4 linked regions of the Homo sapiens genome follow. The protein of the gene in region 2 interacts with the protein of the main gene of each other region in a biochemical or structural test. Each region holds a gene or a part of one and is shown on either strand. Other genes may lie near its edges. The genes, in order: FBXW10, ANXA2, MYOC and TNC.

What was found.
Region 1: of the proteins of ANXA2 (region 2) and FBXW10, one has a biochemical effect on the other in vitro, tested with the Homo sapiens proteins (one study listed by BioGRID).
Region 3: the proteins of ANXA2 (region 2) and MYOC interact in far-western blotting, tested with the Homo sapiens proteins (one study listed by BioGRID).
Region 4: the proteins of ANXA2 (region 2) and TNC form a complex in vitro, tested with the Homo sapiens proteins (one study listed by BioGRID).

The regions. Positions count from the first base shown.
Region 1 is NC_000017.11:18,757,090-18,762,166, reverse strand, and holds part of FBXW10 (F-box/WD repeat-containing protein 10), read right to left. Parts: intron 3,863-5,077; coding exon 3,662-3,862; intron 1-3,661. UniProt on the Homo sapiens protein: Probable substrate-recognition component of a SCF (SKP1-CUL1-F-box protein)-type E3 ubiquitin ligase complex which mediates the ubiquitination and subsequent proteasomal degradation of target proteins. Overexpression is leading to degradation of CBX5 and CBX1.
Region 2 is NC_000015.10:60,352,744-60,357,820, forward strand, and holds part of ANXA2 (annexin A2), read right to left. Parts: intron 4,494-5,077; coding exon 4,403-4,493; intron 3,256-4,402; coding exon 3,176-3,255; intron 1,471-3,175; coding exon 1,411-1,470; intron 1-1,410. UniProt on the Homo sapiens protein: Calcium-regulated membrane-binding protein whose affinity for calcium is greatly enhanced by anionic phospholipids. It binds two calcium ions with high affinity. May be involved in heat-stress response.
Region 3 is NC_000001.11:171,638,250-171,643,326, forward strand, and holds part of MYOC (myocilin precursor), read right to left. Parts: intron 474-5,077; coding exon 348-473; intron 1-347. UniProt on the Homo sapiens protein: Secreted glycoprotein regulating the activation of different signaling pathways in adjacent cells to control different processes including cell adhesion, cell-matrix adhesion, cytoskeleton organization and cell migration.
Region 4 is NC_000009.12:115,107,367-115,112,443, forward strand, and holds part of TNC (tenascin isoform 1 precursor), read right to left. Parts: intron 4,186-5,077; exon of another isoform or gene 4,063-4,185; intron 1-4,062. UniProt on the Homo sapiens protein: Extracellular matrix protein implicated in guidance of migrating neurons as well as axons during development, synaptic plasticity as well as neuronal regeneration. Promotes neurite outgrowth from cortical neurons grown on a monolayer of astrocytes.

The sequences.
Region 1 (5,077 bases), on a different chromosome or scaffold from region 2:
CGCAGTGAAACCCCGTCTCTACTAAAAATACAAAAAATTAGCCAGGCGTGGTGGTGGGCGCCTGTAGTCCCAGCTACTCGGGAGGCTGAGGAAGGAGAATGGCATGAACCCAGGAGGCGGAGCTGGCAGTGAGCTGAGATCGCACTACTGCACTCTAGCCTGGGCGACAGAGCAAGACTCCGTCTCAAAAAAAAAAAGAAAAAGAAAAAGAAAAACCAATTATGAAACATACATGCTTTTACAACTAATAAGAGAGTTTGGCAAGGATGCCAGACACAAGATCAATTTACAAAAATCAATTGCATTTCTCTATGCCAGCAATAACTAATTTGAAAATATAAGCAAAATTAAGATACCATTCACAATAGTAATAAAATTATAACTGTACAGGCATTAAGTAAAAATACACAGGACTTTTATGAAGAAAACTTTAAGGCTCTAAGAAAGAACACAGATGATCTAATTGAGTGTGTTTACCAAACTAATCTATAAATTCAATGCAACCCAAATAAAGTCTAGTTAGGTTTTATTGAAAGTTGGTAAACTTACTCCAAAAACTCAAAACTTATATACTATAGCTGTTACATAAAAAAGAAAAGTGAGGCCGGGCGCGGTGGCTCATGCCTGTAATCCCAGCACTTTGGGAGGCCGAGGCGGGCGAATCACGAGGTCAGGAGATCGAGACCATCCTGGCTAGCACAGAGAAACCTTGTCTCTACTAAAAATACAAAAAATTAGCCAGGCGTGGTGGCGGGTGCCTGTAGTCCCAGCTACTCGGGAGGCTGAGGCAGGAGAATGGCATGATCACGGAAGGCGGAGCTGGCAGTGAGCTGAGATCGCGCCACTGCACTCTAGCCTGGGCGAGAGAGCGAGACTCCGTCTTAAAAAAAAAAAAAAAGAAAAGTGAAAAGTAGAATTTCCCTCCCCGTCACATTTTAAAACATTCTCCAAATGCATACCTAAAAACAAAACAAACAGTTTTCAAGGAGGGGGATTTTGATTAAAAACAGAAAGGCAGTGGACTAGATCAGAGAACTCAGGGACATTCTCATGCACATATGGGAAATTTCAATGTGATAAAGATAGCACCTCAAATCAATGCAGGAAGTGGCAGGTTATATAGTAGTTGCTGTGGGGGAGAAACTGCTCACTTTATCTAAATATGAATAAATGAAATGGAAACCCTACCTAATGCCACATACAAGGTTGAATTGCAAAGAGATTAAAAAACTGAATGCAAAAGATAAAACTGTAATGTTGATAGAAGAAAATATTAGAAAATATCTCTATGACCTAGAAGAGGGAAGAATCACAGAAATGAAGAAAAAAAAAACCCTGATAAACTGATATTTTATTACATTCATATTGAGATTTTTTTTTTTTTTTTGAGACCGAGTTTCGCTCTTGTTGCCCTGGCTGGAGTGCAGTGGCACCTCCCAGGTTCAAGTGATTCTCCTGCCTCAGCCTTCCTGAGTAGCTGAGATTACAGGCATGTGCCACCATGCCCAGCTAATTTTGTATTTTTAGTAGAGACGGGGTTTCTCCATGTTAGTCAGGCTGGTCTCAAACTCCCGACCTCAGATGATCCGCCTGCCTCAGCCTCCCAAAGTGCTGGGCTTACAGGCATGAGCCACCGCGCCTGGCCCATATTGAGAATTTTTGTTCAACAAAATTCATGTAGATACTATGAACACAGTTAATAGATAGTCCTGGCAAGAGGGTATTCTCTGGCAGATGGCCTTTGGGCTTCATCTGCACCGTTGGCTCTCCTGGGTCTCCAGCCTGCTGGCCCCACGCTGCAGATTTTGGACTTGCCAGCCACCTTGATCACACAAGTCAATACTTTATAGTAAATCTCCTATGTATATACACATTGTATTGGTTCTGTTTCTCTGGAGACCCTGACTAATACACATATGAAAAGGTGTTCAACTTCATTAGTAATCAGGAAAGTTAAAATTTAAACCCCAATAAAACACAGTGGGTTTCATTTAATACCCATCAGATTGACAAAACTGTTAGACTGTCAATAGTAAGTGTTGGTGAGAATATATAAGAAGAGATATTCTCATATGCTGCTAATGGGAATGTAAATTAATACAACCACATTGGAAAACAGTTTAGTACTCCTTCCTAGAAATTCCCATACTAAGAATATACCTTTAAAAAACTCGTGCACATGGGCACCAGGGGACACATCCAAGACCCGTCTCTGGCAGCATTCTTTGAAATAATTAAAAACTAGAAACAAGGGCCCGGCGCGGTGGCTCACACCTGTAATCCCAGTACTTTAGGAGGCCGAGGCGGGTGGATCACGAGGTCAGGAGATCGAGACCATCCTGGCTAACATGGGGAAACCCCTTCTCTACTAAAAAATACAAAAAAAAATAGCCTGGTGTGGTGGCGGGCCCCTGTAGTCTCAGCTACTTGGGAGGCTGAGGCAAGAGAATGGTGTGAACCTGGGAGGTGGAGCTTGCAGTGAGCCAACATGGCGCCACTGCTCTCCAGCCTGGGTGACACAGTGAGACTCCATCTCAAAAAAAAAAACAAAAAACTAGAAACAATGCAAATGTCCACCAACAGAAAAACAAATAAATGAGTTACGATACAATCATCCAATTTAATACAGTATCTCAGTGAAAATAAGTTAATTACTGCCACCTGCATCATATAGGTGAATCTCAAAAACAGTTCCATGTAAGAATGAGGTACCAACAAATTTTTAAAATATGATTCTTTTTATGTTGAGTTCAAAAACAGGCACAAGTAACTAATACTTCTGGAGATGTATAAGAAGGAAGCAAAAATGATTAAGAAATGCAAGGGAATCATTAGTATAAAATTAGAATAATATTACCTCTGGTTGGCAGGAAGAAGCAAGAAGAGAAGGGCACAGTGGGAGGGTTGGGGAATGGTGGTATCTTATTTCTTGGCCTGAGTAATGGATGCATGAGTGTTTGTTATATTGTTTAAAAATATACATATGTGGTTTTTTTTGAGATGGAGTCTCGCTGTGTCGCCCAGTCTGGAGTGTAGTGGCACCATCTCGGCTCACTGCAAGCTCCACCTCCCAGGTTCACACCATTCTCCTGCCTCAGCGTCCCGAGTAGCTGGGACTACAGGCACCCGCCACCACGCCCAGCTAATTTCTTGTATTTTGTTTAGTAGAGACGGGGTTTCACCATGTTAGCCAGGATGGTCTTGATTTCCTGACCTCGTGACCTGCCCACCTCAGCCTCCCAAAGTGCTGGGATTACAGGCGTGAGCCACCGCGCCTGGCCACGTATGTGTTTTTAAAGCACTATTTTGCCTCTATAGTCTGTCTCAAACCCATAAAAACCACGTTCCCCTGAAAGAGTCTGTAAGAACAAATGTAAATTATTTCTTCCTCTAAGAATGCTAATAAAGAAAATTTTTCTGATTTGCAGTCATCAATTAGAAAATATATCTGATAACTGTTATAAATCCATCTCATTCAAATTTTAAGCAATATATACATTCCTGACTTTTTCCTTGCCAAAAAAAAGCTGAAGGTATTCTAGAAGTCAGTATCTTCTAGGAAAACTGTTAAATATAAAAAGAAGAAGCATGCACACTTCTTCCATGAGCTGCCTCTAGGCCCTAGGTGGGACAGGGATCATGATGCCTTTGGACTCCTCACCTGATACTTAGGTCATAGCTCCCGCTTAGGAGAAAGTTTTCCTCCTCACACAGGAAGAGGGCCCGGACACTCCCAGCATGGCCTCGGAATTCAACGGGTATCGCTTTCACTTGTATGATGTCCAGAAGATGGATCTTTCGATTAGATGACACAGCTATCAGATCTCCCCCGGAATAGTGGATGACTCGGTTTTGATCCCACCTGAGTGCCAGGGGAAAAGGATTATCCATGAAAGAAGAGTCAGTGTCCCTCCTGGGACTGACTTAGCCCCATGACTTTTGCCTACAGCAGTGGTGTAAAGGAAAATCCAGGGCCTTTCAACAAGGGAGGCAGCAGAAGGCAAGGTCGAGAATTAACAGGCCTTGAGGGATCCCCACTCTCACACGATGACAAAAATCCATTTCCGTTAAATTTAAAAACTAGAGACACAAGGCAATTTTTTAACAATTCTGTAAATGTATGCTAAATCCCCAAGAGAGAGAATGGAGTATGTGGCATTGCCCGGATTTAATTGATCACGGAAACCTTTTTTCTTGGAAAACGTCAGAGGAACACAGTTGGGAAGTCCTGTGCACACTGTATTTCTTTTCTTTTGTTTTTTCCCTTAATCAATATCCAGTGAGCATATATTAGGTTCAAAGTCCTGTGCTAGTAGATACCACAGGAAATATAAATAATTATCAGATAAGGACCTTACTTACAATGAGCTTATTGTCCCATAAAACTAGGTGAGTTGAATTAGTCTTTCAATCATAGGATTATTAGCAAATAGGTAAAGTATGAACAGGATGACCAAATAATGTATTGTCCAAACTGAGAGTTTTTTATTGTGAAAGGGGACACTATTTATTTATTTTTAGAGACAAGGTCTTGCTCTGTCACCCAGGCTGGAGTACAGGGGCGCAATAATAACTCCCTGTAACCTCCAACTCTTGGCCTCAAGCGATCCTCCTACCTCAGCCTCCCAAAGTTCTGGGGTTACAGGCATGAGCCACCACGCCCAACCTGGGGACACTATTATTAATGACACTAGGACTGCAGACTAGAGAGGGATTGTTCCAATAAACAGGGATGTATAGTCACTCTAAATATGAGGAGCTTTGAGACCAACCTGACCAGAGAACGAAACCCCGTCTCTACAAAAAAATTCAGAAATTAGCCAGGCATGGTGGCATGTGCCTATAGTCCCAGCTACTTAGGAGACTGAGGCAGGAGAATCGCTTGAGCCCAGGAGGTGGAGGTTACAATGAGCCAAGATTGCACCACTGCAGCCCAGCCTGGACGACAGAATGAGGTTCACTCTGAAAAAAGAAATACAGATAGTATGGTGATAATTGTTCTTTAAACTACATATATATGTGTGTGTGTATATACATATATTTTTATGTATATATATACATGTACATATGTGTATAT
Region 2 (5,077 bases):
GGACCAAGAGCTTGTATTCATATAAAGAAGAACAAGTAAATGTTCATTAACACATCTGGCCCTCCTCCCTTTGGGCACATTTAGGGGCAGATAAGCTAGCAGATGTTTACTGGACAGCTACAGACCAGGCTCTCATTCTCAAGCTTCTCAGAGACTCAGGGAGTGATGGAGCTGGAAAAGGAGCCCATCTCATCTCACTTTCAGTTTCTGGAAAATTTAGGGGCTACAAGTAGCCCTAACAATGGCAGGGAGGGCAAGAGGAAGAAAGGCTTATGCAAGGGTAGATATTCATTCCGTGATCTTCCACCATCTAGGAACTGCAAAACCCAACTTCTATTACTTTATTTAAAACCCTTCTCTACTACCTGCTAGAAGTGCCGTGTGGAATATATTGAATTTTAAAACTAACATTAATTTAAATTAATTTTTTTCTGCAGCTTTTATGACTTACTTTGAGATAATCGTTGTCCCTCTGAGTAAAGAATATAGTTCATTGCAGTCTGAATAAGCTTAACAAATAGTTCTCAGAGATAATGGAACTAGAACTGGCAAAAGTCTTATTCAGCCAGAAAAGGACAGGTCTCTGCTGGCCTCCCTTTCTCCCCCACCACAACAGAGCAGTACACCATCCTGTCCCTGGCTGTGTCTCCTCCACCTTCTTCTGCTTCCCACCTGCCTGCCTGATTGGTATGCACAGCCACATTACACTCTGCAGAAACTGATGCTTCCATACAAGCAAAGCCTGAGTGAGCATATGTGAGTCACGTATTGATTCTGTAAGTAACACCAGCATTATAAGAGAATGTCTTCTAATAAACATTGCTGTCAGACTATGGTGGGTTTAAAATACGGCCAGAAATTCTTTGAGGTTCCTCCCTTCCAAAGGAAGAGCCTAATCCCCTCCCACTGAGTGTGGGCTAGACTCAGTGACTCACTTTTAATGAAAAGAGTATGACAGCAGTGCAAGGTGGGACTCCTGAGGTTAGGTCATAAAAGACACTGTGGCTTCCTCTTTGCAGATTGCTTGCTCTGGGGAAAGCCGGCTGCCATGTTGTGAGGACGCTCAAACAACCCCATGGAGAGGCATATGTGGAGCGATTCTAAGGTCTCCTACCAACAGTCATGTGAAGTGCACCATCTTGGAAGCAGATTCCCTTGACCCAGTCAAGCCCTCAGGTGACTGCAGCCATGCAACATTTTGTCTGCAACCTCAGAAAAGACCCTGAGCCAGAACAATTGGGCTAATCTACTCCTCAATTCCTGACACACAGAAACTGAGAAATAATACATGTTTGTTGTTTTAAGCCACAGAGTTTGGGAGTCATTTGTCACACAGAGTTAAATTACTATATAGACTATCCAGAGACTTACCAGAAAACAAAAACTCAAAGCAAAAAGCTCAGCACTTACCCGAGCATCTTGGTCAATCAGTTCATAATCAATGACAGAGCCATCCTCTGCTCTTCTACCCTATGGGGGAAAGAAAAAGAACTTCAAATACATTTCTTTGTGTATTTTAAAACTGAAAATGTTTTCTCCCCAGTCCATGTACGCCATTATTTAATTTCCTAAATAAGTAACCACGTAAGATTTTTCTTACTTTGAAACATAGATGGGGCCGGGCACGGTGGCTCACGCCTGTAATCCTAGGACTTTGGGAAGCCAAGGCGGGCAGATCACGAGGTCAGGAGATGGAGACCAACCTGGCTAACAAGGTGAAACCCTGTCTCTACTAAATTAGCCAGGCGTGGTGGCACATGCCTGTAGTCCCAGCTACTCGGGAGGCTGAGGCAGGAGAATCGCTTGAACCAGGTTGCTGTGATCTGAGATCACGCCACTGCACTCCAACCCTGGTGACAGAGTGAGACTCTGTCTCAAAAAAAAAAAAAAAAAAGAAAGAAAGAAAAGAAAAAGAAAAAGAAACCTAGACCAGCCAAGGAGTGGTAAAATCATTGAGCAAGGAAGTGGGGGCTGTGCCTTGCCATCAACAATCCCCCCCTTGATACCCAGTCCTGGCCTACACACCTTACAGAATCCCTGTCCCCATCCCCCACAAAAAGCTGATGAGATTTAGCTCTTTCTCACAGAGAGCTTGCAATGCAGATGGAGGAATATGTGGAAACAAATGTAAAGCAGCCCGGGAACCCACAGCACTAGAAAGACACAAAATGCGGGCGGAGGAAGAACTCTCAGAGGGCAGAGTCAGCAAAGAGTGTGAACGATGGGCCTGGGCTTAAGCTGAAACTTCAAGGGTCAGTCAGATGCAGCTAGCCAAGCAGAGCGGGAGAGCCAGCTGGCACACAAGGGATGGCACAGCACGCTCTCAGGTAAGTAAGGAGCTGCCCTGTCAGAGCAGAGCTGAGCGGGAAAGATGAGCAAAGAAGATGCAGGGAGGGTTTAGAGGACCTTTCACAGCAGTTAGGAGTTTAAATTTGATGCAGCAGAAATGGGGTTTGAACAGAGGAGTAAAATGGTGAAAGTGTATTTCACAGAGATCCGTGGATGGTGGTACATGGGGCAGGTGGTAGCGAAGAGAGGAGAGCGAGGGAGAATGGCATAGGAGTTGTTGCAGTAATGGAGATGTGAGTGGGCCGGACGCACTATCTGTCATTTGTCATCAGGGTTCCCAGGGTCTCTCGTCCCTCCCCTGGCACATAAGTATTAAGCTACACGCTGGCCAGAACTAGGGATTCACAGGGGAAATGCCCCTTCCTCCATGTTAATGTGTTAATATTAGCAATCAGCTCCACAAAGACAACTCCACCCCAGACAAAGGACTATATGGGCAAATTCTTCCATGAGAAGTAAACGCAGTGAAAAAGAAACCAGAAGGTCACTTCCCACTGGGTCCTGCATGACCACAGATAGAGGCAAAGTGACCTTCCCTAAGTCACACGGCCAAGGCTCTGGCACATAAATCCAGGCCAGGACTTGAGAGCCGCCCATCCCTTCTCTGGCTCCCAAAGTCCACTTGTCCATGAGGTTTTGCAGGATAAGAAATCCTATTATACAAAATTGACAACTCTGCAGTGACAGTGCAAACCCACTTTCAAAAATGCAGCTGAATTTCTGATGCAGGCACAGGGGATTTAGTTAATTCACTCCAAGTATAAAATGAGGTATGTGACTTGCCTTGGGAGGAAGCAAGGGCAAAGAAAGAAACTGGGAAACCAACCTTTGCCAGGGCAACCATCAGCTTGCGGAAGTCACCAGATGTGTCCGAAATAATGTCCTTCTCCAGATCAGTCTTGTACACTTGGAGGAAAATACATCTGGTTTTATGCTTTCTGCCTGTGTAGCCAACCATCCACCCCAATCTCCCCATTTCCCACTAAGACTCTGAGAAGCAGAACAGCTACGTCAGCTGGACATATCCATTCTCCTTAACCCCAAACAGAGGAAGGATTCACTAGAATGATTTTCGCCCTCATGAAATCAGAGCCAGAGTTATTATCCATAACAGGGGGCAGCAGGGCTAGATCAAATCAGGGATCCTCAGGCTCACCGTTGATTGGTGACCTCTCGTGTAGTTTAAATACTGGCTCCCAGCCCTCCTGACTGTGAGTACTTGTTCTGAACATCAAAAAAATTGGAGGTCTACACACGCACACACACACACACAATTGTGCTTTACTGTCCACTGAGAAAATGCACAGCGGCAAAAACTACTAAGAATTAAACAATGCTTTTGAATGAAAGTATATTTCAATATTCAAAATAGCATCTATATTGAAATACAGTAGCTAGAGAAGAACTGTAATGTTCCTGATACAAAAAAAAAGATAAATGTGTGAGGTGATGGATATCTCAATTACCCTGACTTGATAATTACATATTATATATAATACATGTACCAAAATATCACATGTACCCCCAAAATATGTAAAACTATGATAATAACTTTAAAAAGTAAAACAAAAAAGAAATGCAGTAGCGATGTAAGTTGCATTGTTTATTCCCCTCATAGCCTTCTATACTGCTAAGTGTGCACCAGTCCACAGGGGTCTCTTGCTGTAATTCTTCAATTATCCACAGTCCAGAGTTGGCAACCTCTTGAGCAGACACTGAACAGCGCCCAATAAGTGGAATCCATATATAATACTTGCTACTTCTCCTCATCCGATCTTGTTTAAAAACAAGTTTTGTTTTCTCTCCTTTCCCTCCTGTCTACCCTTCTTCTAACACAGAAGTTCTAGTGGAATGTAATAATCAAAATGCAGGCAATGAGGAGGTGAAGGAGAGAAACTTGGACCACAGCCAACCTTGCCTGCATAGTCAAGGTGGCAGGCACTTCTGCACATCACTAATGCAGGCATCTTAGCCCGAACCCTAACCCCAGTGGCCATGATAGAGTCACATAAATTGGGCTGAGAGGATGAATCACAGAAATCAAGCTACTCACTTTCCTTGTAGACTCTGTTAATTTCCTGCAGCTCCTGGTTGGTTCTGGAGCAGATGATCTCAATGAGAGAGTCCTCGTCGGTTCCCAGCCCCTGTGAACCAGGAAGCACGAACATCAGCAGGGAAATGCTTCCCCACCATTAGCCTACTTCTCTGATCTCCATCAAGTAAATTGCAAACATGGATTGGGTCTGTTAGCATCCTGCTTTCTACATTCCTTCTGAAGAATCTATACTCCTACCCCTTAGCACAAAGTAATGGCATTTTCTATTCCTTTAAAAAATGCTTCACCAGAGCACAAGATGGTGGAACTGGCATGTTGGAGTTCAACTGTTAATATGGTTTTTTTTTTTAAGTAGTGAATAGGGGCTGGGCACAGTGGCTCACGCCTGTAATCCCAGCACTTTGGGAGGCCAAGGCAGGCAGATCACGAGGTCAAGAGATCAAGACCATTCTGGCTAACACAGTGAAACCCCATCTCTACTAAAAATACAAAAAATTAGCTGGGCATGGTAGCGGGCGCCTGTAGTCCCAGCTACCCTGGGAGGCTGAGGCAGGAGAATGGCGTGAACCTGGGAGGTGGAGCTTGCAGTGAGCCGAGATCGCGCCACTGCACTCCAGCCTGGACGACAGAGTAAGACCCCATCTCAAAAAAAAAAAAAAGTAGTGAATAGGA
Region 3 (5,077 bases), on a different chromosome or scaffold from region 2:
CTACTGAAAAATGTAACTTCTCAAGTATATCTAATTCTACATGACAATCAAGTGGATGAAATCAACACATCTCTCATCTTGCCCTGTGCAGCCCAGCCCAGCCTCCCAAGTGTGGGTGATAGGATAGAGGGCTTTGTTAGGGAAAGGCTGACTCCTGCAGACCTGCTCTGACAAGGGAACAGAGAGAGAGAGAGAGTTCTGTTCCTCTTCTCCTCCCCTCCCTCTGCTCCCAGGGAAGTTAATTTCCCCCTTGGGTGGGCATTTACCCTATACTGATTCTCTGAACACAGCACTAGACATGAATAAAGACCACGTGGGCACAAAAGGGAAGAAACTTAACTTCATACCGGTGTCTCCCTCTCCACTCCTGAGATAGCCAGATGGGCTCTCCTTCAAAATTCGGGAAGCAGGAACTTCAGTTAGCTCGGACTTCAGTTCCTGGAAGGCCAAAGTGTCCAAATTCCACGTAGAAACTGCATTAAAAGAAAGAGACAAAATTTTACTGTAAGAAAAAATGGCCCAAGGATTGACTATGTTGAGGATGACATTTAAATAGGCTGCCGGCCAGGCGTGGTGGCTCATGCCTGTAATCCCAGCACTTTGGGAGGCCGAGGCAGGCGGATCACCTGAGGTCAGGAGTTCGAGACCAGCCTGGCCAACATGGTGAAACCCTGTCTTTGCTAAAAACACAAAAGAATTAGCTGGATGTGGTGGCAGGTGCCTATAATCCCAGCTTCTTGGGAGACTGAGGCAGGAGAATTGCTTGAACCAAGGAGGGGGAGATTGCTGTGAGCCGAGACTACACTATTGTACTCCAGCTTGGGCAACAAGAAAGAAACTCTGTCTGAAAACTAACTAACTAAATAAATAGGCTCCCAAAGATATGGTGTTTGAGATTTGATTTTAGATAAGGACTGGGGATGGGTTGGGGGTCAGAGAAGGGAAGATAAAACATGATTGGACTGTGCTGATAACAGTTGGGCCTGAGTGATGGCTACATTGGAGTTCATTGTAGTCTCTCTACTTTTGTGAATATTTGAACAATTCCATAATTAAAAACCTCATAAATAATAAATTGCAGGGCAATGTGCCTACCTTAGAGTAGGGTATTCAAAATCAAATAATATTTTAATTCCACTAGAAGGGCTGGTTTGTGAATAGGTGAGTCGTAATTTCAGGAATATGGAGACAGTCCTCAGCATCTTCTTAGATGTCTGAATTTCAATAATTAAAAATTCATGAAAAATTAGCTGGGCATGGTGGTAAGCATCTGCAGTCCTAGGTACTTGGGAGGCTGATGTGGGAGGATTGCTTGAGCCCAGAAGTTCAAGGCTGCAGTGAGCTATGATCCTGCCACTGCACTCCAGCTTGGGTAACAGAGCAAGGCCCGGTCTCAAGGTCTCAAAAAAAAAAAAAAAGAGACCGGGCACAGTGGCTCACACTGAAATCCCAGCACTTTGGGAGGCCGAGGCAGGCGGATCACTTAAGGCCAGGAGTTCAAGACTAGCCTGGCCAGCGTGGTGAAATTCCATCTTTACTAGAAATACAAGAATTAGCAGGGTGTGGTGGCACATGCCTGTAGTTCCAGATACTCAGGAGGTTGAGGATCACTTGAACCCAGGAGGCAAAGGTTGCAGGGAGCCGGGATTGTGCAACTGTACTCCAGTCTGGGCAACAGAGCAAGACTCTGTCTCAAGAAAAAAAAAAAAAAAAAAAAAAAAAAAGAAGTGTGGCTCATGTCTGTAATCCCAGCACTTTGGGAGGCCAAGACAGGAGGAGTACTTGAGCCCAGGTGTTCAAGACCAGCTTGGGCAACATAGGGAGACTCCTGTTAAAAAAAAAAAAAAGATAAAAGTTTACTGCATGACTTAAGGTTTTTTCCCTTGTTATATGCAAATATTCTTGTAAGAAGTAACATATTAAGCTTTATACTTTCAGTAGAAATATTCTGTCTGATTCCTTTCTGAGACCAGTTTTGCATAATGGAGAGGGAGTGTGTGCAGAGTTCCTATAGGAGTTTGGGGTGGGGGTGGTGAGCCATACAGAAGGGAAGCGGGTGGGCAGCATTGGTTAGACAGTAAGTGATCATGGTGTGCTACATGTCTCTACTCTTGCTTAGGATTATGATCTTACAGCAGTCTTGAATACAAGGATGAGGCAATAGTCACAAGGAACAGGCTTGGCTATTTTAAAATGCAGTTTGGCCAGGCCCAGTGGCTCATACCTGTAATCCCAGCACTTTGGGAAGCCAAGGTAGACAGATCACTGGAGCCCAGGAGTTCAAGACAAACCTGGGCAACATGGTGAAATCCCATCTCTACAAAAACTACAAAAAGTTAGCCTGGGTGGTGATGTGTACCTGCAGTCCCAGCTACTTGGGAGGCTGAGGTGGGAGGATCACTTGAGACCGGGAGGTCAAGGCTGTGGTGAGCAGTGATCGTACCTCTGCACTCCAGCCCTGGCGTAGAGTGAGACCCTGTCCTCCCCTCCAACCTCCCAAAAAACCCATCACATACACATAAAAACAAATAAAATGCAGGTTTGATGATTATTCAGGTGTGGCAAGGCCAACATCCCAGGAGGCAATTGTCACTGAAAAGCAAGTTAAAGCAAAATTATGGAGACAGTAAAAAGATCAGCAGTTGTTGGGTGAGGAAGGGATGACTAGGTGAGGCACAGACGATTTTTAGGGCAATGAATACTGTGTATGATACTATAATGGTGGACACATGTCACTATGCATTTGTCTAAACCCATAGAAGGCGCAACACCAAAAATGAACCCTAATTTAAACCGTGGACCTTGGGTGTTGTGCGTGCTGATGCAGGTTCATCAGTTGTAACAACTGCTGTGGCGGGAGATGATGATAATCGGGGAGGCTGTGCATGTGTGGGGGCCAGTAGTATCTGGGAACTGTTTGTACTTTTCTCTCAATTTGGCTGTGAACATAAAACTGCTCTAAAAAAAAATTATCTTTACAAGTTGTTGTACTCACAGAGCCCAAGAGGAAGGGGGCACACTAAGCCCAGGAGGCCACCTGGGGAAGCACCAGGGTTGCTCCAGAAGAGGGCACCAGGGGAAAATGTGGGAAAGCGCCTTTATTCTTTCCATGGGAAGGAAAGAAAGGGGAGGCAGGGTAAGCAGGTTTAGGATTGGGGAGTTTGAATAATTTCAGCAGGATCTGGGGTCACAGGAGTTATCTCTAATTGTCTGGTACCAGGCCCTGGGTGATTAGGTCAGGGGGACAGTGGCCTTGAGTTTGAGCCAGATGGAGGTGGTCACAGGGTGTGGGCTCTGGATTGGTTGGTTTGCATATGAAAGCTGTCCTCCCAGGTGAGTCCTTTGCTAACCGTAGGAACTGGCTACCCCTGGGAGGGGCAGTCCCTCTCACGTTTGCAAGGCCCAGACAGCAAAGCATCAGAATAAAAAGACATGCTTAATACACTGGGCTTTTCTCTTGCTGAACCTCTGAGTCACTTCTCTGCCCTTTGAGCAACTTGTTCCCCGCTCAGGATTCTCAGGTGTTCAGGACAGTGGGAGGAAAGTCAGTGCATCCCCTGAGGCCGGAGCGCCTACACAGCCGAGAGGGTCGGGAAGACATGTTCTGCCTTTGATCATTTGTTTGCTCAGCTCTCCTAAATTTAGATTTCAGGCAGAGAGGATCACCACAGAAGTCTTAATCCTCTGGTTCTACCACATTTCATCAAAGCCACACATTATTTTACATTTTCACATCTCCAGAGTCAGGGTACCTTGTTTGAGTTGCTGGGGTTCAGCTTCAACAAATTATAGTACTGGAAAAAATTTCTCCCTGGAAGGAGGTGAAGAAAACATTCAGCTAGCTCTCAGGTGCAGGCTGGGCCAGACAGCCATGCTGCCCACAGTGAGCCAGCTCAGTAGCTGCTGCAGCTGCCTGCCCCTGATCCCAGCTACCCTTCTCTCCTCTCCACCCCTGCCTCTGTGTGGCTGCAGTTGTTAGCCTCCCTAAAAGTGTTAATGCCCTGGAGGTGGGTGGGTCCTCCATCCCTGGGATATCCCTCAGTCTAGAGTGCACCATGTAAGTAGTTAAAACCCATAAGCTGGCCAGGCGCAGTGGCTCATGCCTGTAAACCCAGCACTTTGGGAGGCCGAGGTGGCAGGATTGCATGAGGCCAAGAGTTTGGGACCAGGCTGGGCAACATAGCGAGACCCCATCTTTACAAAAAATTAAAGAGTTAGCTGGGTGTGGTGGTGCAGTCTGTGGTCTCAGCTACTCGGGAGGCTGAGGCAGGAAGATGACTCTTGAGTCCAAGAGGGCAAGGCTGCAGTGAGCCATGATCATGCCACTGCACTCCAGTCTGGGTGACAGAGTGAGACCCTGTCTTAAAAAAAAAAAAAATTAAAAAAAGAAAGACTCATAAGCCAAAATGTATATGTAACTGAGGACATCCTCAATGTGCATTCCAAACTCCAGGGGCAATTGGGAGTACCCCCCGGGACATGGCAGGCCTTCATTATTCCTAGCCTCAAATCCACAGAGCTATTTATCCATCCTTTTAGTCACATCATTGGAGCACCTATTGAGTGCAAGGCTGTGCTAGGTGCTCAAGAAAAAAAGGTGTCTAAGACACAAGTTTGTCTAATAGGCTAGTCTATGTTTAAAAAAAAAAAAAAAAAGACACAATCAGTCCATGCCCTTAAGGAAATCATAATCTGGCAAAGTCCTCATACCCGAGAAGGAAAATGGGTTTATTCCAGGCTGCTGCGGAAACCAGTTTCTTGGACAATCTGAATGGCTCCTGGAGAGTCCTGGAAACTTTTATTTCATTCCCTGCGTCTCCTTCTCCCTATCTGAGGTTGTGCAGGGGTGAGGAAACCCCTTTGTTCTTCATTCTAAAGGTTGCATTGGCCTAGGAGGGTATCCAGGGCAGGGACTGATTCACTAGGTCAAATGGAGTTTCCTTAGATCGACCTGAGACCAGTACCAGCTGCTTCCCTTCTCCCCCTGTGCAGGCAACACACACCTCCGGCAGGGACTTGGTGCTGCCTATGGGGGAGAGGGACAGGGTGCCCGAGGTTCCCTGTTCTTCTGTGCTGC
Region 4 (5,077 bases), on a different chromosome or scaffold from region 2:
CTATGGTTTGCTAACCTCTGCTGGAATATAGTAGTTATTCAATAAATGACAGCTTCTATTATGAAACTAAATACAGATTGAATTGAACAATAAGGAAACTAACATTTTGTTGAGTGCCTATTATATACATTTTTATGCCAAATCTTACACTAAATGCTTTTTATTCATGCTATCATTTATCTTGTCATTTGTCATGACAACCTGGTGAGTTAGGTATTATTATGCTTATTTGAAAATTAATTTGAGACTCAGGGAGTTTCCATGACTGGCTTAAGAGGCAGAGCCAGCTTTTGAATCCTGATTTATTTGTGGTTCTAAAATGTCTGCTTTCAACTACATTGAGCTACACTGGGCTGACTCCTAAAGGAATTTTCTTAGTTCAGATAAGGTAAAAACTTAAATTTTTACTGCTCCATAAAGAAAGAGATCAGCATTCAAGTGGATGAACTCACTTTCCATTTCCTAGACCTTCAGCAGCTCTTTGGTGGCTGTGCACATGTAAGCACCAAAATATTTGACCTCTGTTTTTCTCCCAGAACCTCTGGCTGGATCTCAAGTTTTATGTACTTCCTTTTTGGAGAATACTTAAGCCAAGGTGTACTGTTTGCAAACACTTATTAGCCTTGGGTAGATATTGGCGAGTTTCCGTTGGCATCAAATGGGCTTCCAGAATCTGCTGAGGCCTGGCTGTGCTCATTGATTGTCTTTGCCAAAAAGAGCTGCTAATTAGGATGACATCCTGCTTGTCTCTACCTCTAGAGCTAGGTTTTCCTTCCTGGGCATGCCTATTTTGTCCCAAGCAGTATGTTTGGATTTTTAGTGCAGATCTAGATGAACAAGAGCAAATTTGCAGTCCCTTTAAAATCTATGAAGCCTTGTGCTCCAGTGAAGAATTTCCCAGACTACGTTGCAAGATGTTTTTAGGTAGATGTCCTATGGTCAGGTATGTTTGGAGATACTGGGCTAACGAAAGTTGAACAGATTAATTACAGCAAGATATCTCAGATGATGCACTCTACTTCCCTGAACCATCCATTGGCTTCTAACCACACTCAGAATGAAATTCAAACTCCTAGCCATTGCCTACAGAGCTCCTTCTCTCATTTCATTCAGACATCTGCACAATGGCACATTCACCTCTCACCCCATCTAAAAGAGCACTCCTCTCACCACCAGTCATTGTTTATGCCCTTACCTTGTTTTGTCTTTCTTCTTAGCAAATATCACTACCTGAAATTGTGCTATAAGTTTATGTGATTCCTTTTTATTGTCTGCCTTCCCCCTGCTATGGTCTGAATGTTTGTGTTCCCTCAAAATCCACACATTGGAACATAATCACCAGTGTGACAATATTAGTTGGCAGAGTCTTTGGGAGGTACTTAGATCATGAGGGCAGAGGCTTCATAAATAGAATTTGTGCCCTTATTAAAAGAGACCCCATAGAGCTGCCTTATGTCTTCTGCCATGTGAGGACATATAAGGTGCCATCTTGATCTTGGACTTCCCAGCCTCCAGAACTGTGAGAAAGTAATTTCTGTTGTTTGTAAGTCACTCAGTTTATGGTATTTTGTTGTAGCAGCTTGTACAAACTAAGATATGCCACCATAATGTAAACACCATGAATAAAAGGATCTTGACTGTATTGCTTTCTATTGTATCACCAGCCCTAAAACTATGTATTGAATGGACATATGAGCTGTGCATTTCCAAGAACAGAAGAGTACCAAGTGTTTCCCAAACTCATTTGGCCACAAAACCCTTTTTTAGGTGATTCCCATGAGAATGCTTTTCCACATGACACACTTTTGGGAACTGCTTCTCTAGTGGGATCTTATCATCAAGAACTATTTGATCAACAGGTAACAAAACAATGACAACAACAAAACATTTATATTGAATGCCAGTTTCTGTGCTAAGCAGTGTTCATGAACTACATCATTTAATCATCACAATAAACTTTAAACTAGGTGCTACTACTTTGCTTTTAATATGGATAAGAAGAAATTAGCTTAAAGAAGCTAAGTAACTTGGCCAAGATCACATAGCAAGCAAATACCTCTCAAACCCAGAGGATTCTTATGCCAAAGTCATACTCTTAACCATTATTCATTTCTTCTTGTGGGCTGTGAGCTTCTCCATGTCCTAAGATAGAGAGCTCTTTGTCTCCATCCCACCCTTGAGCCTGTTCTTTCCTCCTATTAGTTGTTGACTAATCTTTGTTATAACCTCCAGATTTTCAGCTATCTCTTGTGACTCAGCCTCAAATCCCCAGACAGGACTCCTCTGTCCTTGGTACTGGTTTTTCCAAATCCAAAGCAATTTGTGTTTTTATCCTGAAGGCCACCTCTGAAAGCAAACACATTCCTTGAGGTCTGTGTCCTGAGACAGTTTCCTGTCCTAGGGCTGGGATGGTTTCCTCCTATCACATGTTGTGTCATCACACTGCATACTTGCAAGCCAGTGGGTGAAGCGTGAAAACAACTTCAAGCTCTGGGCTTTCTGAGCAAACTGCTAAGGAAGAGGATGTCCAAATCTGGGACACAGCAAGGACTCCTATTAATTGCTAAAGATTAACTTTATTCCAGTTGTGCTAGGTTTCAGATAAACCAGATACAATTTTTTCTTTTAGGAACTATATTGTCAAGAGGGGCAGACAGGCCATTCCAGGATGATAAAGGAGATGATAGATTTAAAAAAAGAAACATAGGTAGAATGAGATGACAGTAAAAGGGCATCTAATTTACCTGGAGGAAGTGGTGCCTGAACTGAATTTTGAGAGAAAAATATGAATAGGTGAAAAACATAAAAAAGGATATTCTAGGCACGAGGGAATGGCATTTACAAGGATATAAAAAGAATAAAAGGGTTGATGTGAACAGTATGAATGACAGCTGAAGTACAGGATCTGTTTAGAGACCAGAAGCAAGATCATGGAGAATCTTGAATGTCAGAATATCTGGACTTTTTTGCAGGCAGAAGAAAAGCATTTGGAAATCTTGAGGCCCAGGAATGTTAACCTCTATGTCTCAGGTTGAAGAAGGGGAAGGCTGGGTTGCTGGGGGCCAGTGGGAAAGCTGTTGCAGTGGCCCATCTGTGAGATGCTAAGATCTGAACTACAGGGGTAATGGAGGTGGGGCAGGGGGTGGTGATCAAGAAAGTGGGGAGGCAGTGAACAGATTTGCTTGTCAAGGCAGTAGAGACTACAACATTTTGTGTGTGGGGTTAGTAAAGAAAAAAGAATTAATCGAAGATGTTACTATTCATTATATCTGCTGAGAGGAATAGATTGAGGGAGGAACAATGGATGAGTTTTAGTTTTGGTCACACTGACTGTCTTGCTTTAGAATAAAATACATTTGGAATCATTGCCGTGAAAGGCCCCTCCCTGGGGTGAAATTCAAGAGAAATTATGGCTAACCAATGAGTTAAAACAACTAATCAAAACACTTGGCTCCACTATATACATGGGAGGATGTTAAATAAAAACTAGTCCACTTTAGTGGCTGCCAGAATTTTTTTTTTTTTTTTTTTGAGACAGAGTCTCACTGTGTTGCCCAGGCTGGAGTGCAGTGGTGTGATCTCGGCTAACTGCAAGCTCCGCCTCCCAGGTTCACGCCAGTCTCCTGCCTCAGCCTCCTGAGTAGCTGGGACTACAGGTGCCCGCCACCACACCCAGCTAATTTTTTGTATTTTTAGTAGAGACGGGGTTTCACCATGGTCTCGATCAATTTTTTTATTACTCATCAGTGAGGGTACTGAAGGGTTGAGTGAACTTGTCATTGATAAGAGGTTGCCAGAAATTGGTGACACTGGAGTGCTGGAGGCTGTGGCAGGCAGACTCTAAGGTGGCCCCATTGATACTGCCTCCCGGCATTCTCATACGTGTGCAATTACCTCCCCTTGAGTGTGGGATGGCCCAGTGACTTTCTTCTAACAAACAGAATATGACTAAGGTGATGGAATATCCCTTCCATGATTAGGTTACACAGGATTGTGATGTGCCTCTTGCTTATAGACTTTCTCTCTCTCTCTCTTTTTTTTTTTTTTTTTTTTTTTTTTGAGATGGAATCTCGCTCTTGTTGCACAGGCTGGAGTGGAATGGCTCGATCTTGGCTCACTGCAACCTACGACTCCCAAGTTCAAGTGATTCTCCTGCTTCAGCTTCCTGAGTAGCTGGGATTACAGGTGCCCACCACCATGCCAGGCTAATTTTTTTGTATTTTTAGTAGATACGGGGTTTCAGCATATTGGCCAGGCTGGTCTCGAACTCCTAACCTCAAGTGATCCACCCGCCTCGGGCTCCCAAAGTGCTGGGATTAAGAGGTGTGAGCGACCATGCCCGGTAACTCTCTTTCTCATTGGCTTTGTTAATGTAAATGGCCTTGTTGGAGAAGCCCATGTGGCAAGGAACTGAGGGTAGCCTTGGACCAACAGCTTTGAAGGAACTGAGGCCCTCAGTTCAATATCTCTCAAGAAATGGAGTCCAGCCAACAACCACATCAACAAGCTTGGAAGCTAATCATCCCCCAATTCAGCCTTTAGATGAGACATCAACCCTGTCCAACACAGACAATAACCTCATGAGAGACCATGAGGCAGAAAATCCAACTAAGCTGTGCTTAGACCTCTAGAAACCATGAGATAATAAATGAGTGTTGATTTAAAGTAATTTGGTATGCAGTAATAGATAATGAATACGGAGATACTAGTCATCCTTGGCTCGGTCCGTGTGAGTTAAGGCTGTTGAGAGAATAAGACTCTGCTCATTTTTCTTTTCTAAAAGAATGTCTTAATTCTGAAACTTTTAAGATTGTCCCTGGCTTCCAAGAGCAAGAGTCAGAAGACCTAGGATTCCAACCTGACCCTGTTGCCAACTGGCGGAAGATCTTAGAAAGATCTTTCCCTTCTCTATGTCTCAGTTTCACCCTCTTTAAAATGAGGTATGCTAACCTAGGCCAGCAATTTACAAAAACATTCTGTTTTTTCTGCACAGAGCCCTTTCATCAAATAAAATTTCATGAGGAGGCTCAGTGTACAAAATAGATAAGTGGAGGGGCTTTCATTGAAATAAGGTTGA